7 linked regions of the Homo sapiens genome follow. The protein of the gene in region 1 purifies or fractionates together with the protein of each later gene. This does not show direct contact. Each region holds a gene or a part of one and is shown in the gene's direction. Other genes may lie near its edges. The genes, in order: SLC44A3, TGFBR1, TPM1, KDSR, AMFR, TMEM33 and UBAC2.

Region 1 (3,500 bases):
CACTACTAGCAAAGGTGACCCATTCATTCTAGAATCTGACCAGTTAGACTTAGGAGGATCTTGGAGAGTGGGAAAGGACAGGGAGCCTCCTTCCCCAGGAGGTCTGCAGCCCGTAAGTCCTGCTTGCCTTCTAGGCTGGGTTCCTGGAGGCAAGGAGTAGGTTCTGGTCATTCCTGTGTCTCCCAGTAAGAAAGTCTCAAGAACACACTGGGCACTTGAAGAATGTTTGTTATTTTGATTTCTAAATTAGTAATAAATGCAGAATGTCTAGAAGGTATTTGAATTTAGGACAATGTACCTTTGCAGCATAAGGTATCAATACTATATATTAATGAATAGTGTATTATATCTGTTCTCCTGGAATGAACTTGTCAATATAGAGTATTAAATGGTATCCTATATATTGCATACAGTACTGGGAAACTTACTAAGTTTGCATTATGGGAAGATACATATTCAATCTTGGCAGAGAGCCTGTCAGTATGTATTAATGGCACAGTTGTTTGAACTGAAATTTCAAATATTCCACATTCACTATGAGAGTGGATAAAAATGATGATAGATTGCAAGATGTTCTTGTCCAACAGAATTCCTGTGGTCCTTTATTTTGTATGTCTTAAGCAGTTACTCCAAAACACTATTTGCAGATTGGTGAACAGTGTTTCAGTACATATCAACTGTGTTGCTTCTGCAGAATCCCTTAAAAGTAAGAAAAGAAAAACAAAAAAAGTAGTAGAAAAAAAAAAAACCTTGGGGAAAGAATTAGCATAGCCCTGAAGCAGTTAAATTAAGCAAGAACATCAAGGGAAGAAAAATTGAATTGTCCCAGTAAAGTTAGACCAAAAAGAAAAATGATAGACTCTTAAGGAAAAGGTTAAAAAGCACAGAGGTAAGAAAATGGAGAGAAATCTGTTTCAGTGGATTAGATTCTCTCTCTACCTAAATGTATAAGTAGCAGAGGAGCAGGATGCTGATAGATGGGAGTTGCTGACACTGTTACTGACGGAGCAAAGCGCTATGATGCTGGAGAGCTTCACGTTCCACCAGGCTCCGTTTTATATCAGCATCTGCAGGGGTGTGGGGCACTGTGCGCTCAGCCCTTTGGCCAGGCTCTCATATGCCCCCGTTTTTGCCAGGTGTTTATCATGGGCTACTCGGTGGTGGCTGGAGCCGCGGGAAGACTCCTCTTTGGCTATGACAGCTTTGGCAACATGTGTGGCAAGAAGAACTCCCCCGTGGAAGGGGCCCCTCTTTCAGGGCAGGACATGACCCTAAAAAAGTAAGTATCTAAATAAGTCCCCAGTCTGTAAGGAACTGTACCTCAAAACTTTGTATAAATTCATCATTTGGAGCCTGGAAACTTTTCCCATTCAAAACTCTGTCAGCCTATTTTATAAAAAGGAAGGCTGTGTATATAGTACAGGTAAGAGTACAAGTTTTAGAATCATAGTCCTAAGTTCAAATTCAGCCCATGCTACTTTTCAGCTGTGTGATCTTGGGCAGAGTACTTAACCTCTCAAAGCCTAGTTTTCATCTCTCTAAACTAGTTATTATACCTACCTCACAAGGTTGTTTTAAGGATTCATGAGACACTGCATGAGCTAAAGTATAATAAACGTTAATTGCTGCTATTATTCTCCATAATGAATCAGAATCATGTTACCAATCGTATATGTTTGAACCCTACATCATCCACACATTGTTTCTACGTGGAAATACCCGAATGCCACCTGGAACACTGGGGACCTGTGTCCCACCCCTGCCCCAGCTATGGCACTGTGGTGTTGCATTCTTCCCCCTACTCCCTTACCCCACCTCCCACAGGGAAACAGAAAGGGGAGAGAAGAGATGGGAATTCCCTAGAGGGGAGAGAAATCCCTGACCATGAACTTCTAAGATGGAGACTGCCTTGTAAGAATTTTTAAGATTTTAGCTCTTGCTTCACATGACAGAACAAAAAAATGATGTTTTATTTTTATTTTTTATTTTTTTGAGACAGACTCTCATTCTGTCACACAGGCTGGAGTGCAGTGGGGAGATCTCAGCTCACTGCAAGCTCTGCCTCCCGGGTTCAAGAGATTCTCTTGCCTCAGCTTCCCAAGTAGCTGGGACTGCAGGCGCCCGCCACCAGGCCTGGCTAATTTTTGTATTTTTAGTAGAGACGGGGTTTCACTGTGTTAGCCAGGATGGCCTCCATCTCCTGACCTTGTGATCTGTCACCTCAGCCTCCCAAAGTGCTGGGATTACAGCCGTGAGCCACCACACCCAGCCAAAAACGGATTTTTAGGACTCAATAATAAAAGTAGCTCCTAGAAGAGAAATCCTAAGGATCTAAATAAATCCTGAATATAAGTTTGGAGTCACCAAATACAAATCTCAGACTAAGCCTCTTATCCTCCTGAGTGTTGCTCCTAAGGGGGCTCTTGCTCTTTCTGGGCATGGACTAATTACGGAGCATTTTCTCCTGCACTCATAGAGCCACTTACAAAGAAGACAGGAGGAGGAAGGGCGACTTAGATGCCCATGTGCTCCCATTTCACATTGTGTTCATAATGCAGTGTCAACAAACAGTCATTCCTGGTTGAAGTGAGTATACATTCCATTATTCTCAAAAGCCAAAAGGTAGAAGCAACTCAAGTGTCCATCAATGGTTGAATGGATAATCAAAATGTGATATGTATATTACAATGAAATATTAAAAAGGAAGGAAATTCTGACACATACTACAACAGGGATGAACCCTGAGGATGTCATGCCAAGTGAAATAAACCAGTCACAAAAATACAAACATTGTATGATTCCACTTACATGAGATATGTAAAGTAGTCAGATTCCTAGAAACAGAAAGTAAAATGGCGATTGCAAAGGGCTGGAGGAAAGGAGGGTGGGAACCTATTGTTTAATGGGTACAGATTTCAGTTTGGGAAGATGAGTTCTGTGAATGGATGGTGGTGATGATAGCCCAACAACGTGAATGTACTAATGTCACTGTACACTTAGAAAGATTCAGATGGGGCTGGTGCAGTGGCTCATGCCTGTAATCCCAACAGTTTGGAAGGCCAAGGCGGGCAGATCCACAGGGTCAGGAGTTCAAGACCAGCCTGGCCAACATGGTGAAACCCTGTCTCTACTAGAAATACAAAAATTAGCCAGGTGTGGTGGCAGGCACCAGTAGTCCCAGCTACTCAGGAGGCTGATGCAGGAGAATCACTTGAACCTGGGAGGCAGAGGTGGCAGTGTCATTGCACTCCAGCCTGGGTGACAGAGCGAGACTCTGTCTCAAAAAAAAAAAAAAAGAAAGATTCAGATGGTAAATTTTATGTATATTTTAACACAATTTTTAAACTTCTTCAAAAATATGTATATCACACACCCAGGAAATCTGTTCCTCATCTCCTGTTGCACCACCTTTCTCCCATCCCCAACAGGAGGGAAAAAAACCTTCTGGGACCCCTTCTCAAGGTCTCTCCCATAAAGGGCAGCCTACGGGGTCTTCCTCT
Region 2 (3,500 bases), on another chromosome or scaffold:
AATTGCTCTCCTCTCCCCCAGTAGTTTGTCATGAGCAGAAGTTGTTCAAGAATTGTCTTCTTTTTTTAATTGAATGAAATTATGTACAGTCCATTATCTGAAACAGGATGTCACCGAGTGCCAGAGAAAACAAAGGCGATGAAACCTTTGGGAGGGGACAGTGCCATGGTGTGCACATGCACAGCTCTAGCCTAGTGTATTCTCTTCCTGTTTCCATTTGAATCTGGAGACTCATCAGAACCCAACCCCTTGTTATATTGGAATATAGTTCTTTAGAATGGACAGCTGCTTGAGAGGCTCACCTAGGAAGCTGTTTCTAGCATGTACCTGGGTGTCAAACTTATTTTTTTTCTTTGAGATTGTGGTTATTTTCTCCAACTTGATAGTTACAGTTACATACACAGAATACAATTATGTTACCATTGTGTTGTATTCTAGAGTTAGTTTGTTTTAACTTCTAGCTTTTTAGATGGAGTACTTTTAATGTTTACTCAGGAAACAGTCTCTTAGGCTTGGGGACCTAGACTTGGCTGAGACCTAGTGCCTTAGGTTTTTGAAGCAGTGAGGGACAGAGTATTTCTCTGTATTGTAGTAAATAGGATATATTATTGACAGATGCAAGTAGAGAAAGGGACTTGGCACCTTAAACTTGCCTCATAAGATTCAAGTCTCACTGATAGGGTATATATATCCCTGTGCAAGTGAGAGCCTGTGCACTTACAGAATAGAATCTCATTTGCTGCACAATAGGGTTCTAGGGGAAAATGTCAATCTGGTCATCACAGCTCATAGTTTACTGTCATTTCAAATAGGCTTTATTGATCTCATGGCAATACTTAGTTTCAAGGTGTGGGTGGAATATCAACTCAGGGAAGTGGCTTGTGGATACAGATGTGGATGAGATAGAGAAAGCTGTAATCTCTGTTCCACATACCTACTTTAGTAATGAAACACTGTAATAGGTCTCTCAGGTGATCTTTTAATGCCTTGGCATTAGCTGAATAAATTCATCAAAATTTAATTTTTTTTAAACTGATACAGGAATTCATGAAGATTACCAACTGCCTTATTATGATCTTGTACCTTCTGACCCATCAGTTGAAGAAATGAGAAAAGTTGTTTGTGAACAGAAGTTAAGGCCAAATATCCCAAACAGATGGCAGAGCTGTGAAGTGAGTATTTCTTTTTGATATTAGGCAATTTTCTAAACTGCTTCTGCTTAGTAAGCAAAAGTTTGCTACTTTTCTTTAAGGAAAACTTTTCTTTAAGAATTTTCTTTTTCATAGCAGTCAAACCAATGTTTAAAAACAGAATAATTTGGTTTTCATATTCAATTGTAAGCACATTGAAAGGGCCATGGAACATTTGCAGTGGCCTTTAGTGTATCAGAACATAGTTTAGATCTGCCGGGCGAACTAAGGCACATATTTTTAAATGAATGCCTCCCTTCAGCCGGGGCAACCCAGAACACTAGACAGTTACCGGACATGAATGAGGAGCCCTGTATTCTAGACCAGCCTGGCTACCATTTCAAGGGTCTGACTCTGAACAAATCCCTTTAGTTCTCTGGACTTTAATATCCCTTTGCAAGGTGAGGAACTCAGATAAGGTGATTACAAAGGTGTTTCAAATGATTTTCCGTTTTATTCATCTGATTGCCCAGATAACCGTTAACCAGGAATTTAGGGAAAATGCTTTTTTCCAGCAGTATCTGAGCTGCTCAACTTCAGCTCTAACAAAAAGTTTTAGAAACGTTTTTGTAATTGTAAATTTAAAGATTCGTAAGATGAATTTTATTTAACCTCTCCTTAATTGCTAGCTGTTACTATTACAATATTGGTGAAGCAGAGCATATTCCTCCAGGTTTGAAGATTTGTAGCTTAAAAAGGCTATAAAAAGCTGTTCAGTTCAGTAGTTGATTTTACGTCTTAAACTATTGTAGGACTCAGCAGAACCTCTGATAAGCAAGAGAGCTTGCTACCTCCAACAAAATCACATCTCCAGGCCCAAATAAATAAAATGTATTTCAGCATGCTTAAGGAATTTGCATGTGACATAGTTTAATAAATGAGAGTGCTGCTAGATTTTGTCTTTTAGAAATTTGATCTACTTGGGAGGCTGAAGTGGGAGGATTGCTGGAGCCTGGGAGGTCAAGGCTGCAGTGAGCTGAGGGCATGCCATTGCATTCCACTTTGGGCGGCAGAGTGAGACCCTGTCTCAAAAAAAAAAAAAAGAAAGAAAAATTTGATGTGAATACTTCAAAGTACAAACTTAAAATTTCAGTGTGAGGTCAGATTTCTTCTTTGCTTTGCCCAGCTCTGGTTTAGGATTCGGCCTTTTCAGGTTTGCTAAATGAGTCACTCTTTGTCCACCTGCTTTCCAGCACTGGCACCAGTACCCTATTGATGGAAATTTATGTAATTTCTACTCATTTGCTATTACAAATAATGCTTAAACAATAACAAGTGTATATGTCATTTAAAAAGAAAATTTACACGTAAAAATTCTTATCCAGACCAATGGAAAATGGTGCATGCATTAATTTTTTTTTTTATATTTTCTTGTAGGCCTTGAGAGTAATGGCTAAAATTATGAGAGAATGTTGGTATGCCAATGGAGCAGCTAGGCTTACAGCATTGCGGATTAAGAAAACATTATCGCAACTCAGTCAACAGGAAGGCATCAAAATGTAATTCTACAGCTTTGCCTGAACTCTCCTTTTTTCTTCAGATCTGCTCCTGGGTTTTAATTTGGGAGGTCAATTGTTCTACCTCACTGAGAGGGAACAGAAGGATATTGCTTCCTTTTGCAGCAGTGTAATAAAGTCAATTAAAAACTTCCCAGGATTTCTTTGGACCCAGGAAACAGCCATGTGGGTCCTTTCTGTGCACTATGAACGCTTCTTTCCCAGGACAGAAAATGTGTAGTCTACCTTTATTTTTTATTAACAAAACTTGTTTTTTAAAAAGATGATTGCTGGTCTTAACTTTAGGTAACTCTGCTGTGCTGGAGATCATCTTTAAGGGCAAAGGAGTTGGATTGCTGAATTACAATGAAACATGTCTTATTACTAAAGAAAGTGATTTACTCCTGGTTAGTACATTCTCAGAGGATTCTGAACCACTAGAGTTTCCTTGATTCAGACTTTGAATGTACTGTTCTATAGTTTTTCAGGATCTTAAAACTAACACTTATAAAACTCTTATCTTGAGTCTAAAAATGACCTCATATAGTAGTGAGGAACATAATTCATGCAATTGTATTTTGTATACTATTATTGTTCTTTCACTTATTCAGAACATTACATGCCTTCAAAATGGGATTGTACTATACCAGTAAGTGCCACTTCTGTGTCTTTCTAATGGAAATGAGTAGAATTGCTGAAAGTCTCTATGTTAAAACCTATAGTGTTTGAATTCAAAAAGCTTATTTATCTGGGTAACCCAAACTTTTTCTGTTTTGTTTTTGGAAGGGTTTTTGTGGTATGTCATTTGGTATTC
Region 3 (3,500 bases), on another chromosome or scaffold:
CTGCTATTGTCTTACATGGCTGAGCCTGGGTAAGTCTTGTCTCAGTTCACACTTCAGGCCCCCAGTGAGTGAGGTGGCCGTGATGACGCTCTTGTTTAACAGGCAAGTAAAGCCAGGGTGTTGAACTCTACGGAAGTGGGCCGGGCGCAGTGGCTCACGCCTGTAATCCCAGCACTTTGAGAGGCCAAGGCAGGTGGATAAGGAGGTCAGGAGATTGAGACCATCCTGGCTAACACGGTGAAACCCCGTCTCTACTAAAAATACAAAAAAATTAGCCGGGCGTTGTGGCGGGCGCCTGTAGTCCCAACTACTCGGGAGGCTGAGGCAGGAGAATGGCGTGAATCCAGGAGGCGGAGTTTGCAGTGAGCTGAGATCGTGCCACTGCACCCCAGCCTGGGTGATAGAGCGAGACCCTGTCTCAAAAACAAAACAAAACAAAACAAAAAAATCTACGGAAGAAAGGAACCATGTGAAAGAGCGTTTGCTAATGATCTGTCTGTCTGATGAGAATTGTGTGTATAGATTTGTGTATACACAAATATGGATGTTCACTGTATAAATCAATGTGTAAATGTGTCCGAGAACTCCAGAGTTGATGAGGGCTTGTAATGCACTTAAAGGTAGCTCACCACAAGACAGTCTTCCTATCTGAAATCAGCATTGCAGTCCCAGCCATTTCCTGAAGCTACCACCCTCACTTTCTCCCCAACTCTGAAATGCTTTTCACTCTCTACCTAGGCTGAAGCCGACGTAGCTTCTCTGAACAGACGCATCCAGCTGGTTGAGGAAGAGTTGGATCGTGCCCAGGAGCGTCTGGCAACAGCTTTGCAGAAGCTGGAGGAAGCTGAGAAGGCAGCAGATGAGAGTGAGAGGTGAGAATGCCTCATCAGCCATCTTTTGCAGCTGCCTTTCCTGGTGGAATAAACCGGAGGGCTCCTGTGATCTTTGAGGTTTAAGAATTTTTCAGTCCCCTGGTGGTGGGATCATTTCCTCTATTGATCCCAGGTATAACTCGGTTGGTTTTGTTCATTTAGCATTAGTGAAACACCTACTATGTCCAAAGCACTGTCCTAAGCCCTAAGGTTACAAAGAAGAAGATGATCTTGTTCCTGCCCTTACAGAACTCACCATCTAATGAGGGAGACAGACATGTAAAGGAGAAATGTCAGGGATACAAGTTGGCCCTTTCACTCCTACTGACCACAGAGCAATTGTGCATTTTTTAAAGTGTAACTTTATTTTATAATATACAAGGAGGCTTAGGTGTAAATAAAGGAACTGTGGACTATCAGTTGTCAAAATAGCTTAACAAATAGGTGGAAGAAAAAACACAAAGCAGAAACATGGTCTGCAAAAGTAAAATATTTTGGACTTGGTCTTAGTAATATACACAACACACATGCACACAAATAGTCAGATGCTCGTGTGTTCTGAGCCCACCTCCACTGTAATCTGGCTGTAGCTGAATTATTACTCAGATTCAGCTTTGTGGTAGTAAAGGAAAGCATGGTTCGTATAGACCAGCACAGCCTTGTGTGGTCTAAAAGGCATTTTCCCTTAAGCTCAACTGTTGGAAGTAAGGATTTGCCATATTGCATAGAAGTACTTCAAGAGAGACTCCATGAGGTGAGAGAGCGTTCTGCCGCTTGAGGGATGGCATAGCATGAAGGGGCTCAGAGCACTGAATGTGTATCTGTCTGTGCTGTGACCTGGGCAAGTGAATGCAGTCAGTCATCTTGTCCATTTCTTACTCTTTGAAGTGACCCTACCACTAGGTACCAGGTATAAAGAGTGATTTCAGACTTTAGGATTAAAGAAGATTTTTAGCTAAACTTTTTAGGCCATTATTCACCGCTGCTTAGTGTTTCTTCGCTAACCAAGCATTTTGGACTTCTTTAAGATGACTAAGCATCTTACAGTGTACGCATAAGAGCAGTTTTGTGGCTGACTTCTTTCTGAAATATACTTGTTAGTGTACCTTAAAGGCAGTCTGGTAATGTTAGACTTCGGAGTAAAGGGGACTTGGGGATCATTTAGTCCCTTAGTTTTACAAATGAGAAAAGTAGGGCTCAGAGGCTGATGTGACTTGCACCAAGGCTCACAGCATATTTGTGGCTAAGCCAAGACTCCGACCCAGATCTCCTCAACTGTATTCCAATGCTTCATCAAAAGATAGTGGGCCAGATGTGGTGGCTCACACCTGTAATCCCAGCACTTTAGGGGGCCGAGGCGGGCAGATCACTTGAGGCCAGGGATTCGAGACCAGCCTGGCTAACGTGGCATAACCCCTAAATCTACTAAAAAATAGAAAACTTAGCCAGGCGTGGTGGTGCACACCTGTAATCCCAGCTACTCGGGAGGCTGAGGCAGAAGAATCGCTTGAACCCAGTAGGTGGAGGTTGCAGTGAGCCAAGATCACACCACCGCACTCCAACCTGGGTGACAGAGCGAGACTCTGTCTCAAAAAATAAAAATAAAAAAATAGTGGTTCACTTATACTGCCTACTTAAATTTTGATAAATGAATTCCATTTTACATGACTTGTTATTCCATATATCTGTAAAATATCATAGGTCATTTAGTATTTTTCTGAAACATTACACCACGCTATAGGACCCTAATATACACCATGCCATAGGACCCTAATACACTCAGTGTAGAGGACAGTGTCAGGCCTGTCTCCCAGCATTGCTGTCATGAAAGGGTTCCATTATAGGTAAAACTTAATTTGATGCATTCAGTTGAACCATAAGAAATTGCCATTATTACTTGTCTGAAATGGTCAAATATCAGCATTCTTTGTGGACTTAATAGTTTATTAAATCTAACATTAAGTCTAATATTTTTGTTTATGGGTGGCAGGGTAAGAAGATTCTTTGTAGAAAGAGGTATATAAAGATAAGTTTGATTTTGTTCTAGCTTTGGTTCATGTGCAAGCTGAGGCTTCCCACAGGAAAGGCAAGAAATCTCATTATCTTTTTAATAGTAAAGCATATTGGCTTTTCCGGTTTCATACTGCCAAGATTCAGACAGATTCCTGACGTGGTACCTTTCGTCATCATTAATGTTAGATGCCTGATAGTTTCATCAGTACTCAAAGTGAGAGAGTTCATTCACAGTGAACAGAGAGAAATGTGTCTCTTTTTTCCACCTTTAGCTCTGGAAATTGTTGTTTCCTGGTTTGGAAAATAAAAGTAGCTCTGTGCTCTATTTTGGTCTACCACTTACACTAAGCCTCACAAGCCACAGCAGTGCAGTGTGCATTTGGGAAGTTCAGCTCTAAATCTTGGGTTTTCTTGCTTGTCTTTCTTTTCAGAGGCATGAAAGTCATTGAGAGTCGAGCCCAAAAAGATGAAGAAAAAATGGAAATTCAGGAGATCCAACTGAAAGAGGCCAAGCACATTGCTGAAGATGCCGACCGCAAATATGAAGAGGTCAGATCCTGGGGCCCAAAGCCTTGTGGACACCCAGCAGTGGCCTTCAGGAAGCCAGGGAGCAAT
Region 4 (3,500 bases), on another chromosome or scaffold:
AATACAAAAATTACCCGGGTGTGGTGGTGCATGCCTGTAATCCCAGCTACTTGGGAGTCTGAGGCAGGAGAATCACTTGAACCTGGGAGGCAGAGGTTGCAGTGAGCAGAGATCACACCACTGCATTCCAGCCTGGGCCACAGAGTGAGATTCTGTCGAAAATAAATAAATAAACAATACAAATGATGCTCCATGAAAGAAGTGGCAGTTTAGCCCTTGACTTCAGGAGCTGCACAAGGACTTTTGTTCCAGGCAGTTGTCCCGCCCTGGAATGCAGTGCTGCGGAAGCGCGTTGGGCGCATTCTCATTTGTCACACAGAGTATTAAGAAGACATGTCCTCGAGGGTTGCCATTGAACAAAATGATGAATTTTCCTGCTTTATCAAGAGGATTTTAAAGCAAAACTGACACTTTGATTTTTAAAAGAATTTTAGAACTTGTATTTTCTTTGTGTATTATTTATTACTGCGAGTGCGTGTGGTAGTAGAGGTGACAATGACTCCTAGTACAGTTTGGCAAGAACCCCGTGGTTCTTGCCCATGTCTCTGCAGTTTTGCAGAGGCAAAACTGTATTTTCCATACAACACACTGTGGAAAAGACAATGAATGTCTTAGTGTTATTAGGACAATCATTTGTCCTTGGGGGCCCGCAGGGGTCCGTGGACTCACTTGTTGAGAACTGCCATCTGCCAAGGCCGTGCGTCCATTTCTGAGTGCTGATCAATGCTTTGTGACCATTTTATCTCACTTAAAGTGAACGAGCACACTCCACTGTTTCTGATGTGTCCGACTGATTTCTGTCCACATTACTAGGATTCCCTCTTTCTCTTCTTTTTCTTCTCTTTTAGCAAGGAAATTTCAACAGTTCCCTTGGCTCAGATGGGTACATGCTCTCGGCCCTGACCTGTGGGATGGCTCCAGTAACTTCTATTACTGAGGGGCTCCAGCAGGTAAGCTCTGCCTAGGCTAGCAATCAGACAGGCCGATGGACAAGAGAAAAACTGCCTTTCATCAAACCTTGATGAGAAGAGGTTAAGGGAAAACTAAGTAACTTTATTTGACAATGTATTTTTATGGAGCTATCAACTTTTCCTCTTCCTCCACCAGGAATGAGTAAATAGGTTAAAGATATAACTTCAGGAATTTAGAATGGCAAGAAGTCTTCAGTGCCGGGCCTTGCAGATAGAGAAATAAAACACCGTATCTGCTGTTGAGGTGTTAACCTGGATTTTCACCTAAGAACCACTGCTCCAATGTGTTTTGAAAATGGAATACTCCTCTAGAGTAAGGGGTAGCCTTGCTTAAAAAGTACTGGGATATTAGACTAGAAAACCTTTTCTAGGTGAATCAGGTCACACACAGCTAAATTTAGTGAGACACGAATCATGGATTAAACAGTTGCTTCGCTTATAGAATGTATTATTTTGTCCAAGATACACAGTGTTTCATTGGTGTGCTAGGCACTGTACTTGCTCATGGGGAATCAGATGGAAGGCGACCTCTCCAGCTTCAGGGGCATACAGTCAAGTGGAATGCACTGACCAAAAAGGTGATAGTAGTCCGGGCGCGGTGGCTCACGCCTGTAATCCCAGCACTTTGAGAGGCTGAGGTGGGTAGATCACTTGAGATCAGGAGTTTGAGACCAGCCTGGCCAAGATGGTGAAACTGTTTCTACTAAAAACACAAAAATTAGCTGGGCATGGTGGCGGACGCCTGTAATCCCAGCTACTCGGGAGGTTGAGGTAGGAGAATTACTTGAACCCGGGAGGTGGAGGTTGCAGTGAGCCGAGATCAAGCCACTGCACTCCAGCCTAGGCTACAAGGGCAAAACTCTGTCTCAAAAAAAAAAAAAAAGATAGTAGTGCAGTGTAATGAAGTAGGGGTTACAATAGAGGGAATGCTCTGGAAAGACAAAGCCATGGGATAGTTGTTAACAAGTACTAAATTCTGTGCAGTCAACCACATTCAGACTTATATAAATGACTTAGTTGTTGGTTTTCTTCAGGGTCTTTCCCAAGCCCTCTTTTCTTTTCATTCTGTAATGTACCTACTGTCTTTGCCATTCTCTTAGAGGTTGACACTGTGTTAGATGTAAGCTCTTTGAGGACCAGGCCCACACCTCTTGTTTGCCGTTGTACCCCTAACAGCCAGCGCCTGGCACTTAGTAGGAACTCCAGAATCCCTGAGCTGAACAAATGCATGAATTCTTTTATGTTTTAATTTTTGGGCTGGCATGGTGGCTCACACCTGGCGTGTTGTCCTGGACTCCCCTGCTTCTGTCCCTCACGTCAGAGATCATTGTCATCCTTGTCACTCAGTTCTTCACATTCTTCCATTCTCTGCAATTCTGGCAGTGCTTCTGGAGCCCAGGCCTGGGTTGCCGCAGCAGGCCCCCTGCTTGAGTTACACACTTTTTGAGCCAGAGGTTGTAAACGATTCCCATGGGCCTGTAAAGCAGTTTTGTTGGGTCCATCTGGTGTGAGTGTGTGTGTTTAAGATTTTAAAATAGTTTTAAAATTAGGTTTTATATAAAAGGTCCAGATTTCAGACTTTTCTTGGAAAATCAGAAGGTTTAGCTGCACAGAGTCTGCATTCTTACCTGGCAGTCATCAGCAAGCACAGGTGGCAGCTGCTCCTGAGGGAGGAGCACAGTCCCTGCAACCACTATGGTCTGCAACCCCCTGCTCAGGCCCCCTGGATGCGTTTGAGTGTACCCTCACATTTTCCACACCAGTTGTTTCTAAACTGCAACTATACATTGCATGAAAACATTCAATGACTCCTTGATACCATCAGGATAAAGCTTTAAAAATTCCATTGCACCTGAGTATGGTGGCTCATGCCTATAATCTCAGCACTTTGGGAGGCCAAGTCAGGAGGATCGCTTGAGCTCAGGAGTTTGAGATCAGCCTGGGCAACATAGTGAGACCCTGTCTCTACAAAAAAATGTAAAAGAAAAGAAAGCCAGGCGTGGTGGTGTGTACCTGTATTCCTAGCAACTGGGAGACTTCTGCTTGAGTCCAGAAGTCTGAAGCTACAGTGAGCTGTGATCATACTCCTGCACTCCAGCCTGGGTGACAGAGCAAGACCCTGTCTCTAAAAAGGATTTAAAAATTAAAAAAATTTCCATCGCATGCCATAAACCACCTGATCTCCTACCCCACGTACCTTTCCAGGCTCTTTTTTTTCTTTCTTTCTTTACCCATCTTCTTCTTTTTGGAATCTTCTCTGTGTCCTGCCAACTTCTAATCCTTCAGGTCTCACCTTAAATATTGTTTTTTCCGGAAGATCCAAGGACTGGCTTCAGTGCTCTGAGGGTGTAGGGAAAAAAACAAAGGGATTTTTCTATTCTCTTTTTTTTTTTTTTTTTTTTTTGAGACGGAGTCTTGCTCTGTCACCCAGGCTGAAGTGCAGTGGCACGATCTCAGCTCACTGCACGCTCTGCCTCCTGGGTTCACACCATTCTCCTGCCTCAGCCTCCCCAGCAGCTTGGACTACAG
Region 5 (3,500 bases), on another chromosome or scaffold:
CAATTGTGCTAGCCCTAATAGACTAGGAATGCCAATTTCAGAGAGGAGGACTAGAGCAAGATTGAGAAAGAAACAGAACAGAACAGGCACTGTCCTGAGTCCTGTTGAAGGTGAGAGGAGAGAGTTGTATACCCTCGGAACATTGCTTCTAGAGGTTTATAATCCCAGTGCTAGGAGGATCTTTGAGAGTAAGGGATGAAAATATAATGCATATTGTTATACTCAGTAAATTAAATGACACGGATCTCTAAATATCACCTCATGCTCATATTTGGGTTATTGGAGAATAGGACCATATAGTAATGGGATGCTTTTCTGTGCTTAGCACAGAACCCTAAGCAGAGAAGCCAAGATTGACCTTGAATTTCTCAGTGAAGTTTAACACTTCCATGAAGAAGAATGAGCAGTTTCCTACTGTGTGCATTTCAGCTTTCCTTCTCGCCCACCACGCCGATGAGCAGCCACGGTCGAGTCCTGTCCCTGTTGGTTGCCATGCTGCTTTCCTGCTGTGGACTGGCGGCCGTCTGCTCCATCACCGGCTACACCCACGGAATGCACACCTTGGCTTTCATGGCTGCAGAGGTGAGATACTGGATGCAGGACTTGCTCAGATTGTATTTCTGTCTGTTTTCAAGGAAGCTGGATGTTTGACAAGTTATTTTCACCCATGAAATGACAGGTGGATATTTGGTCTTTCATTTTAACAAGCATTTCAGTTCCTTTTTGTGTGTTGGGTACTGGTACTGAATGCTTTTGTGTGGTATTTTATGTAACTCTTTCTTTACGTAGGGTATAAAGATTTTACAAAATAATGAATAAACTGTACTCATCATTTTGAAGGAAAAATCTGGTCTATTCATGAATATTTTAAGATTTAAAAATTTTTCACTCTTTTAAACCTTTCTGAAAATACCAATTTCTGTTCAGTAGAAATAAAAATTCTCCAGCCTGGCCAATATGGTGAAACCCTGTCTCTACTAAAAATACAAAAAAAAAATTAGTTGGGCGTGGTGGCGCACGTCTGTAGTCCCACCTGCTTGGGAAGCTGAGGCAGGAGAATTGCTTGAACCCGGGAGGCGGAGGTTGCAGTGAGCAGACATTGCGCCACTGCACTCCAGCCTGGGTGACAGAGCGAGACTCCATCTCAAAAAAAAAAAGAAATAAAAATTGTTTGTATGTCCTTATATTTAATGGCTATATTTGCCTTTTCTTCAGGCCAAAGGCAAAATACTTTTATCTTACCCATAATTAGTATTATTAATTAAAAAATGAGATATTAGATAAACTGAAGCTAATTGGCTAATATCAAAACACTACATTTGAACTACTCATTGGGAATTTGGTAGAGCAGAGTTAAAGTTTATTTCTGTTTGATAGCATTCATTTTTGAGTACATTTAGTAGTGTAAGTAAAATTAGAAAAGAAACATTTAAATACATAATGTTAATTATCATATTATAATATTGTAATTAAAATACAATAGTCCTAATATAAATAATAAGATATGTAATCTTAGGTGAATACTTCTGTATATGAAAAATATACAACCGTATTTCGTCTTGACAGAAAATCTGTTGAAAAATCCATTTACACTGACTTATTTGCTTTAGATTTATTGCAAAGTTAGAATGATACTTATGTTTGCCTTTTTTTGATTCTCTAACTTTCAACTAATATAATATTATCCAAACTTTGAAAAGGGTATACCTAAAAATAAGCACATTTAACTTAGGCCCGTCAGCTCATACTATAGTATATACTTTTATTTTAGCTTGTTACTGTTTATTCTTTTAAGATAATTTATCATATTACAGATTTGATATTTTAAACTAAATCATTTCTTACATTCATAGTGTTTCTCTCTCCTGTAAAATATTTTTCACTTACAAATGGGAATTTAATCTAAAACATAAATAATGTAATAGTTTTATTCTACTAGATTAAGAGGACTTTTTTTCTTAATGAAAAATATCTTTTTTTTTTTTTTTTTTTTGAGACAAGGTGTCACTCTGTTGCCCGGGCTGGAGTGCAGTTGCTTACTGCAACTTCCACCTTGTGGGCTCAAGTGATCCTCTCATTTCCTTAGTAGCTGGGACCACAGGCATGAACCACCATGCCTGGCTAATTTTTGATTTTTTTGTAGAGATGGGGTTTTGCCATGTTACCAGGCTGGTCTTGAACTCCTGAGATCAAGCAGTCGGCCTGCCTCGACCTCCCAAAGTGCTGGGATTACAGGTGTGAGCCACTGTACCTGGCCGTCAATTTCTGTAATAAAAAAAATACCCTTCAAGACCAGCCTAGCCAACATAGCAAGACCTTGTCTCTACAAAAAAAAAAAAAAAAGCCATGAGAGACTTATTTTGTCCCTCTCCTCTCCTCCCCTCTCCTCTCTCCTCTCCTCTCTCCTCTCCTCTCTCCCCTCTCCCCCCTCCCCTCCCCCCTCTCCCCCTCTCCCCCCTCTCCCCCCTCCCCCTCCTCTCTCTCCCCTCTCCTCCCCTCCCCCCTCCCCTCTCCCCTCTCCCCTTCCACTTCTTCCCCTTCCCCTTCCCTTCTGACAGGGTCTGGGGTCTGGCTCTCTCACCCAGGCTGGAGTGCTGTGGTGCGATCTCTGCTTACTGCAGCCTCCACCTCCCAGGTTCAATCCATCCTTCCACCTCTGCCTCCCAAGTAGCTGGGACTACTGGCACGTGCCACCATGCCCACCTAATTTTTGTATTTTTTGTAGAGATGGGGTTTCACCATGTTGCCCAGGCTGGTTTTGAACTCCTAAGCTTGAGCAATCCTCCTGCCTCGGTCTCCCAAAGTGCTGGGATTAAAGGTGTGATGTGGCTGGCCTTATTTTGCTTTTGATTGCTTTCGTTCTTTTTTCTGCTGGTGGACAAAGGGAGTGCACAAAGCACTAGGGAGAGAGCAGGTCCTCGTGTCTAGGATAGCAGTACCTGAACTATACTTGGAGTTACAGCATCACCCTTCTAAGTAATCAGTGATAGTGACTTAATGCTGTGTGAAATAGAATTGATGGTCAGACTACCAGGGTAAACCTCAAGATTGTAGGGGGATTCCTGGGGGGTAGGTGTAATTGGTTGTCACCTATTAACAGGACTTTTCCTCAATAAAAGTTGGGTTTCTAGGTCATAAAAATATTTTACAGAAATTTGAAGCAGAGAAAATAAAATAATGGGTAAACTTGAACAATCTGCTTTTTAATTGAACTGAGAAATGTTTGTCTTTTATCATTTTATAAAAAGTTTGGCCTGAGCAATGCTACATTTTACTAAAAAGAAAATATCCTTTTTTATAGTCTCTTCTTGTGACAGTGAGGACTGCTCATGTGATTTTACGGTGAGTGAAATTGGGGAGGGAGGTGATGGAGGCCTACTCATACAGTTGATTTTAAGATGTAGCAGGTATGAAATATATAAAAATCGGACTAAATTACAACATGGTTAAACCAAATTCAGTAGTAACAGTAAATTACTAAGGTGTTTTCTCTCTTCATT
Region 6 (3,500 bases), on another chromosome or scaffold:
CATTAAGCATATACATGAAACATGTAATTGCCTTAGAGTTTTCACCTAATGATCTAAAAAAACAAATGGAGGAAGATTAAAATATTTTGAGTAGACATAAAAACCACACAGTCTTGATGCTTAAAAACATGATTTGCAGGCATAGCTTACAGTATTTTTCTTTTTAAATTTAGCAATTCATGATGACCAATAAACTGGACACGGCAATGTGGCTTTCTCGCTTGTTCACAGTTTACTGCTCTGCTCTGTTTGTTCTGCCTCTTCTTGGGTATGTATTATACATATTGCTGCCTTTGATATTCAATTGTTGAGTCAGTTTATATGGAGTGCCTTTTAGGTGTAAGACTTATTAACCTGTAAAGGGTTTAGGGACAAATAAAATACAAGTTCCAGCCTTCAGGTACTAACAACCTAATAACATTATCAGAGGAATATTTTATATCTTGTGCTTTGTGAAACTAACACATTGAAAATCCAAGGAAAAATTGATGTGTGGGAATGAGATAAGTTCATGTTTTTTTCATTTTTACTTATTACTTGACAGGAAGGTCCTGCTTTATAAAATTCAATTTTATAAATTGATTATAAGAAATTCAGTTGGGCATATATATGAAGTGAAGCTATTAAAACGGTAGAATAAGTTCATGTAATTTTTTTCTATTGACAAGTGATTTAGGTGTTGTGCAATTATGATGCAATTCACAAAGGAGGAAGAGACACTGCAGTTGTTTATGTCTCATGATAACCTCTCCTCTGGTAATTTGCAGGTTGCATGAAGCAGCAAGCTTTTACCAACGTGCTTTGCTGGCAAATGCTCTTACCAGTGCTCTGAGGCTGCATCAAAGATTACCACACTTCCAGTTAAGCAGAGCATTCCTGGCCCAGGCTTTGTTAGAGGACAGCTGCCACTACCTGTTGTATTCACTCATCTTTGTAAATTCCTATCCAGTTACAAGTATCCTTTTCTACCTTGTTAACAATGAAATTGCCAACTAAGCATATAGGAGATCTCTTCTGATTATTTCAGCAATGAAGGCATTCCATGAAGCCTGGGTTTGTTCTCGGCACTTCATTTGAATGAAGATATGTTTAGTGTAAGAATTTCTGACTTTAAAATGTGAAATCTAAACTTTGAAGAGCTGATTTAGGAATTTTAAACTATCTTTGTTCTTGCCTCTTGTAAGCTTCCCTATTAGAATGGATATTTTCAAATTCCCCTTCGAAGCACAACCTTACGCAGAACTTACTTTAATATTTACATTTTTTTCATTTAATTCACGTTTTTGGCAAAGTGTCCAGATGTCTTGCTTTAAAAAAGAGAGGTCCTCAGCTCTTTCCATCTTAACCCCAGTGAACTAGATACAAATGGAATTTAACCAAGAAACAACTTATTTAAGCAGGTAATGAGATAATCAATACAAAGAAATTAATATTTGCTGTGTATAGAGTAGAAAATAAGGACACACATGGATAATCCGTGAAGCTAATGAGAAATAATTCATTTGGAATTTGTATGTTTTCACATTTCAAAGGTGTGTTGTGGGATGATACTGGGTAGTCCATAAAGGAGGGGAAAAATGGGGAAGAGGTTCTATAGTGAACACTAGGTTAAACTTTCTTTTTTTTTTTTTTTTTTTTTTTTGAGACAGAGTCTTGCTCTGTTGCCCAGGCCACCTGCCTCTGCCTCCCAAAGTGCTGGGATTATAGGCGTGAGCCATCACGCCCAGCCAGGTCAAACATTTTTAAATAGGGTTCTTTACTATAGTGGCTTTGGTATTCTAACGTGTGTTGTGAAACTAAGAGAGTTAGTAGGGTTTTTTAAACTTAAATTTGTGGTTGTTTTTTTTCCTGTAGATTATCTCTGCAAATCATTTTGTGCATTGAGAAGTGCTGGTCTAAGAGCTTTTGAATATTTATGATACATCTGTATGTTATGTAAAGCACAATAAAATATTCCTCTGAGACTGAATATTACCTATTTAGATACCTATGCTCATGAAGTATCAAATTTTTAAATAGATTTTTATAAGTCTTAAGGAAAAGAAATAGGAGGAAACCGAAATTTCCTGAGCACCTATTTTGCCAGTATAAGAACTTGAATTTAGGCCAGGCGCGGTGGCTCACGTGCGGTGGCACTTTGGGAGGCTGAGGTGGGCGGATCATGAGGTCAGGAGATTGAGACCATCCTGGCTAATATGGCGAAACCCCATCTCTACTAAAAATACAAAAAATTAGCTGGGCATGGTGGCATGTGCCTGTAGTCCCAGCTGCTCGGGAGGCTGAGGCAGGAGAATCGTTTGAACCCTGGAGTGGAGGTTGCAGTGAACTGAGATTGTGCCACTGCACTCTAGCCTGGGCGACAGAGCGAGACTCCTTCTCAAAAAAAAAAAAAAAAAAAAAAAGAACTTGACATTTAATCTTTGTAGCACTCTGAAAAAAATTGTTGTGGTATATTTTTAATAAAGATGCTGATTTGCTGATTGTCAGTATTCACTTCCCACACATTGGCTAGTAAGTAGTAATGCTGAAAAAGTCTTTCTAACTTAAAAGCTCTACCTTATCTACAGTTAGTGGGTGAGTAATACTTAAGTATACATTAAAAATATTTCTTTCTGTATGTGGGTAAACCTGGTAATTTCATTTAAATATTCAGTATATGGAGATTCCCTTTAAATTACTCACTTCACTGAGATAATGTGGGTAGTTTGAAATGTAAGGATAAAATTTTTCCTGTTTCAATGCATGAGTCTGTAATGTCCCATCATAATTTGTATTGGTTTATTTTTAGGTAAAACTCATTAAATGATTACTATACTACAACTGTAAATGATAATCACATTTGTTTGGCATATTATTGGCTTGACCAGCCTCTGTTGATTGAAGTGCTTTGCAGTCACCAATGTTAAAATTCTAGCCTTTCTGAGCTATAACGGGAAGTTATGTAGAGATTTTTGGTCATGCCTTTTAGTAGCTTAAAATTTCTTTGGAGGGAGAAATAGAAATGACAGAAAATGTGTTTCAATGTAGGGTAAACTGAATACGTCAATAACTTTGGGAACAGTGCCTCACACAGATCAGGCACTCAGTAAGTTTTGTTGAGTGAATCCTGAGGTCTTGCCAAATGAGACTCATGACTGGTGAAGAAAACCTTTCTGCCTTTTTATACAGTTGGTTATTTGGTAGCCCCTCTTTCCTGGGAATGTTGAAGATTAAGGATTTCATATTCCTTAAATTCTTACAAAGGGAATGTAGTAAACAGTGGGAATAACATAAACTAGTAATTGGCAGCAAATGCTAATCTGATTATTAAAGTGATATGGTAATAAATAAAAGCGGGCCCAAAGTAATATTACAGATTTGCGTTCTGATCCTTCTTCTTATAAAAGTGATATTTTGTCCTTGCTTGATTAATAACAGATAGGGCATTTCACCTCTTATCTTTTCTAAATACATTGTATTAATAGTTTAAGAGTAATGTTGAAGACTAAGATTATGAATCT
Region 7 (3,500 bases), on another chromosome or scaffold:
TCCACCATGCAGGTACAGACCATGCCTGGCCAGCCCCGCAGCCCATGGTGCCCCCCTTCCTTCCCACCTCTCTTCCTCCTTCCCACCTCCCTCCTGTGACCCCTTCCCCTTCTTTCTCCCTCCCTTCTGTGACCCCTCCTAGCACACATAGTCATCATCTTTGCGCTTTCCTGTCTCGTTTTACTGCTTAGTGTGTGGTTTAGGTTCATTCATTCACAGAAGTGGAATCGTGTTTTCAGGCTTTGGGTCTGGCTTCTTTCTCCCAACATGGTGTTTTTAAAATGCAAACCTTAAATATTCCGCATGAATTTGAGGCTTGGCATTTACATTCCAACAAAACACCCTGTTAAGATTTTATTTTGAATGATATTTAATTTATGTATTAATTTGATGAAAATTGGTATCTTAAAAGTTTTGCATCTTCCTATTCATGGAACTGGTATCTTTATTATCACTAGGGTTGGTTTTGAAAAAATATCCCTTATTATCTTTTTCTTTTTTTTCTGTCAAGGCCTTATATATATATTATTTATTTATTCCCAATTATCTTACAGTTTTTCTTGCTGTTATTTGCTAACAGTTTATTTTTTCTTTCTAAACAGTCTGTATTTTATCCCTGGTTGCTTTTAAGGATTTCTTTCTTTTGTTTCACCACAGTGGATCTAGATGTAAATTTCGTTTTAGCATTCTTTTAGGGACTCTTGCCCTTTCATCCTAAGGATTTATATTCTTTCTTTATTCTAGAAAACTCTCAGCTGTTTATCTCTTTAAATATAATATCCTTTCCCCCATATTCCCTCTGTTGTCTTCTTCTGGAACCCCTATGCTGACAGCCGCATGAGATGCACATAATCTGCCTGTGCAGAGGCCTTGGCCTTCCCAACCCACATGGACCCTCCTTGGTTCATGCCCTACACAGCTTTTCCCTTCTCTCTGTGGAGGGGAGAAAGGGTACATGGAGCATGAGGAGGAACTGGGGTGCCTCTTACCCAGACTTAAGTAACCCTCTACTTCTCTCCTCCTTCCACAGGGCCTAGACCCTCTAGTCCAGGGGTATCTAGTCTTTTGAACTCTTCTGTGACACATTGGAAGAAGAATTGTCTTGGGCCACACATAATATACACTAACACTGAAGATAGCTGATGAGCTTTAAAAAAATTGCAAAAAAATCTCCTAACTTTTTTTCTTTTTTTCTTTTTTTTTTTTTTTTTTTTTTTTTTTTGAGACAGAGTCTCACTGTGTCGCCCAGGCTGGAGTGCAGCGGCACAATCTCGACTTACTGTAACCTCCACCACCCAGGTTCAAGCGATTCTTGTGCTTCAGCCTCCTGAGTAGCTGGGACCACAGGTGTGTGCCACCACGCCCGGCTAATTTTTGTATTTTTAGTAGAGACGGGTTTTTACCATGTTGGCCAGGCTGGTCTCAAACTCCTGACCTCTTGTGATCCGCCCGCCTTGGCCTCCCAAAGTGCAGGGATGACAGGTGTGAGCCACTGCGCCCAACCTTGTAATGTTTTAAGAAAGTTTATGAATTTGTGTTGGACCACATTGAAAGCTGTCCTGGGCCACATGTGGCCCACAGGCCTCAGGTTGAACAAGCTTGCTCTAGTCCCTGTGCTTTTCTGAGTCCCACAGGACTCTCTGCAGGCATTTGGACTTATATGCTGCTTATATGCAGAGTGGTTTATAATCACTTGATAAGCTTTCTATTTTGTTAGCATGGTTCAGGATTAGTTTCTGGTTTCATGGACCTTGGAGTTTGTTTCTGTTTTCATTTTCTTTGTCTTGTACTATTTTTGAGTAAAGGGGCACAGAAATTATTTGAAACCAGAAGTTGTCCACCATTCACTCTTCAGCCTACTACAGTCTGTCTTTGGTACCAAAACTGTTCTTGTAAACACCTTGTTTATCAAACACCTCCATTTGCAACATCCAGTGGCTAGTTCTGTCTTACTTATCAGCTGCATTAGATATAGCTGACCATCCCTATTTTAAAACACTTCTTAGCTTCAGTGATAACTAAACTCTATTTCCCTTCTCTTCACTGGCAGCCCTGTCTCAGATTTCCTTACTGGCGTTTCCTACTCTGTCTGTCCATAGAATATTTGTGCACTCCTGGATTCAGTCCTTAGTCCTGTTCTCTCTTCTGCTGTGTCTCCTCCTCCCCCCCATTTTATCTCCTCTAGTCCTGTTACCCTAAATGTCATATCATATCCAGTGACTCTGAAATCCTTATCTCGACCTTTTCCTTGAGTTCTAGAATTACATAGCCACCTGCCCACTCAGTAGCCCCCCAAGATATCTAATAGACACTCCCAAGCTCGGGCTGCGCAGCATCTGCTGCTTTCTCTGCCCAAAATGTTATTTCCCCAGTTCATCAAGTCACGGGCACCGCATCATCCTTAAGATCTTCGCTCAAGTATCACTTTCTCTGAGGGCTCTCCTGATGTCCCCCGCTGCCCCCAGAGTAGGTTCGTGCCCCATGTCACTTTATTTCCTTCCCAGAACTTGCCAGAAATAGTTTTATGTGTTGACTTGATTACTGCCTGTTCTCCACATTGACTGCTATAAGCCCTGTGAGAGTGGGGCCTTGCTTATCTTGTTCTTTGCTGTATTCTAAGTTCCCAGAACAGTGCCTGGTGTGTAGCACAGTCTCAAAGAATTCTTGCCAATTCATCAATTTAAATTTTATTTTTAAACATTGAAGTATACTTTTCTCATATTAGAAAGTTGTCAAATATGTTCTAATCTGATCTTCTAATCCTAAGAATCAAATTCACATCAAGATTTTTTTTTTTTTACAAAGGAATAGCCATAGTCATTTTTAACTAGAAAATCATAGGAAGCCTTGAGACTTCTGTAACCATACATTATAAATGACCTTCAAGATGAAGACAAGGTTGGTTTATAAATGGAACTAATATTGGTGAGGATTTTAAATGTCTAGAAAAATCAGTAGTTGAAAAACTGATTAAAACACTATGTAAATAAAAACCAAGATTTTAGATTGTGTTTATTCTCTGATAAATTGATCGTGTGACTGGGTCAGCTGAGACATGGCAGTTGTTTTCTGCTGGTGTCTCTGTGATGGCCATCTGCCAACAAAGGTAACCGCAGAGTCAGTACAGTGTGAAAGTGTTTCAATAATCAGATCTTTTACGGCTTTTTAAAAAATGAAGACAGTGTCTTGACAATCTTTTACCAGAACTTTGAATACTAAATGATTAGAATTTTGCTAGCTCTTCTAATTCAATAAAAAACAATTTTGTTTTACTAAGTTCAATTTTGTGTTGATTTGCACTGCTTAGTGTTCTGCAGTGTGGTAGAGGATTTTGCTTATTGCCTAACACTGCTATGACTAAGAAAAATACCGTGTGCAGTGTCTGGAGGCTGCTGATTTTTGAGTCGTGTACATTTTTTAAAATAATACTACATTTAAACAATCACATTGGACGTTTTTCTTCTAGATGTCCGGTCTGTGCTACGACAGCAAAATGTTCC

The links.
Region 2: the proteins of SLC44A3 (region 1) and TGFBR1 purify together in Homo sapiens (affinity purification with mass spectrometry; one large-scale study listed by BioGRID and IntAct). This does not show direct contact.
Region 3: the proteins of SLC44A3 (region 1) and TPM1 purify together in Homo sapiens (affinity purification with mass spectrometry; one large-scale study listed by BioGRID and IntAct). This does not show direct contact.
Region 4: the proteins of SLC44A3 (region 1) and KDSR purify together in Homo sapiens (affinity purification with mass spectrometry; one large-scale study listed by BioGRID and IntAct). This does not show direct contact.
Region 5: the proteins of SLC44A3 (region 1) and AMFR purify together in Homo sapiens (affinity purification with mass spectrometry; one large-scale study listed by BioGRID and IntAct). This does not show direct contact.
Region 6: the proteins of SLC44A3 (region 1) and TMEM33 purify together in Homo sapiens (affinity purification with mass spectrometry; one large-scale study listed by BioGRID and IntAct). This does not show direct contact.
Region 7: the proteins of SLC44A3 (region 1) and UBAC2 purify together in Homo sapiens (affinity purification with mass spectrometry; one large-scale study listed by BioGRID and IntAct). This does not show direct contact.

What each region holds. Positions count from the first base shown.
Region 1 is NC_000001.11:94,823,357-94,826,856, forward strand, and holds part of SLC44A3 (choline transporter-like protein 3), read left to right. Parts: intron 1-1,136; coding exon 1,137-1,279; intron 1,280-2,476; exon of another isoform or gene 2,477-2,586; intron 2,587-3,500.
Region 2 is NC_000009.12:99,146,613-99,150,112, forward strand, and holds part of TGFBR1 (TGF-beta receptor type-1 isoform 1 precursor), read left to right. Parts: intron 1-1,041; coding exon 1,042-1,172; intron 1,173-2,567; coding exon 2,568-2,693; 3' UTR 2,694-3,500. UniProt on the Homo sapiens protein: Transmembrane serine/threonine kinase forming with the TGF-beta type II serine/threonine kinase receptor, TGFBR2, the non-promiscuous receptor for the TGF-beta cytokines TGFB1, TGFB2 and TGFB3.
Region 3 is NC_000015.10:63,056,247-63,059,746, forward strand, and holds part of TPM1 (tropomyosin alpha-1 chain), read left to right. Parts: intron 1-738; coding exon 739-872; intron 873-3,316; coding exon 3,317-3,434; intron 3,435-3,500. UniProt on the Homo sapiens protein: Binds to actin filaments in muscle and non-muscle cells. Plays a central role, in association with the troponin complex, in the calcium dependent regulation of vertebrate striated muscle contraction.
Region 4 is NC_000018.10:63,332,707-63,336,206, reverse strand, and holds part of KDSR (3-ketodihydrosphingosine reductase), read left to right. Parts: intron 1-848; coding exon 849-950; intron 951-3,500.
Region 5 is NC_000016.10:56,405,046-56,408,545, reverse strand, and holds part of AMFR (E3 ubiquitin-protein ligase AMFR), read left to right. Parts: intron 1-429; coding exon 430-582; intron 583-3,301; coding exon 3,302-3,342; intron 3,343-3,500. UniProt on the Homo sapiens protein: E3 ubiquitin-protein ligase that mediates the polyubiquitination of lysine and cysteine residues on target proteins, such as CD3D, CYP3A4, CFTR, INSIG1, SOAT2/ACAT2 and APOB for proteasomal degradation.
Region 6 is NC_000004.12:41,938,429-41,941,928, forward strand, and holds part of TMEM33 (transmembrane protein 33), read left to right. Parts: intron 1-173; coding exon 174-268; intron 269-767; coding exon 768-955; intron 956-3,500. UniProt on the Homo sapiens protein: Acts as a regulator of the tubular endoplasmic reticulum (ER) network by modulating intracellular calcium homeostasis. Mechanistically, stimulates PKD2 calcium-dependent activity. Suppresses the RTN3/4-induced formation of the ER tubules.
Region 7 is NC_000013.11:99,336,854-99,340,353, forward strand, and holds part of UBAC2 (ubiquitin-associated domain-containing protein 2 isoform 1 precursor), read left to right. Parts: intron 1-3,466; coding exon 3,467-3,500. UniProt on the Homo sapiens protein: Restricts trafficking of FAF2 from the endoplasmic reticulum to lipid droplets.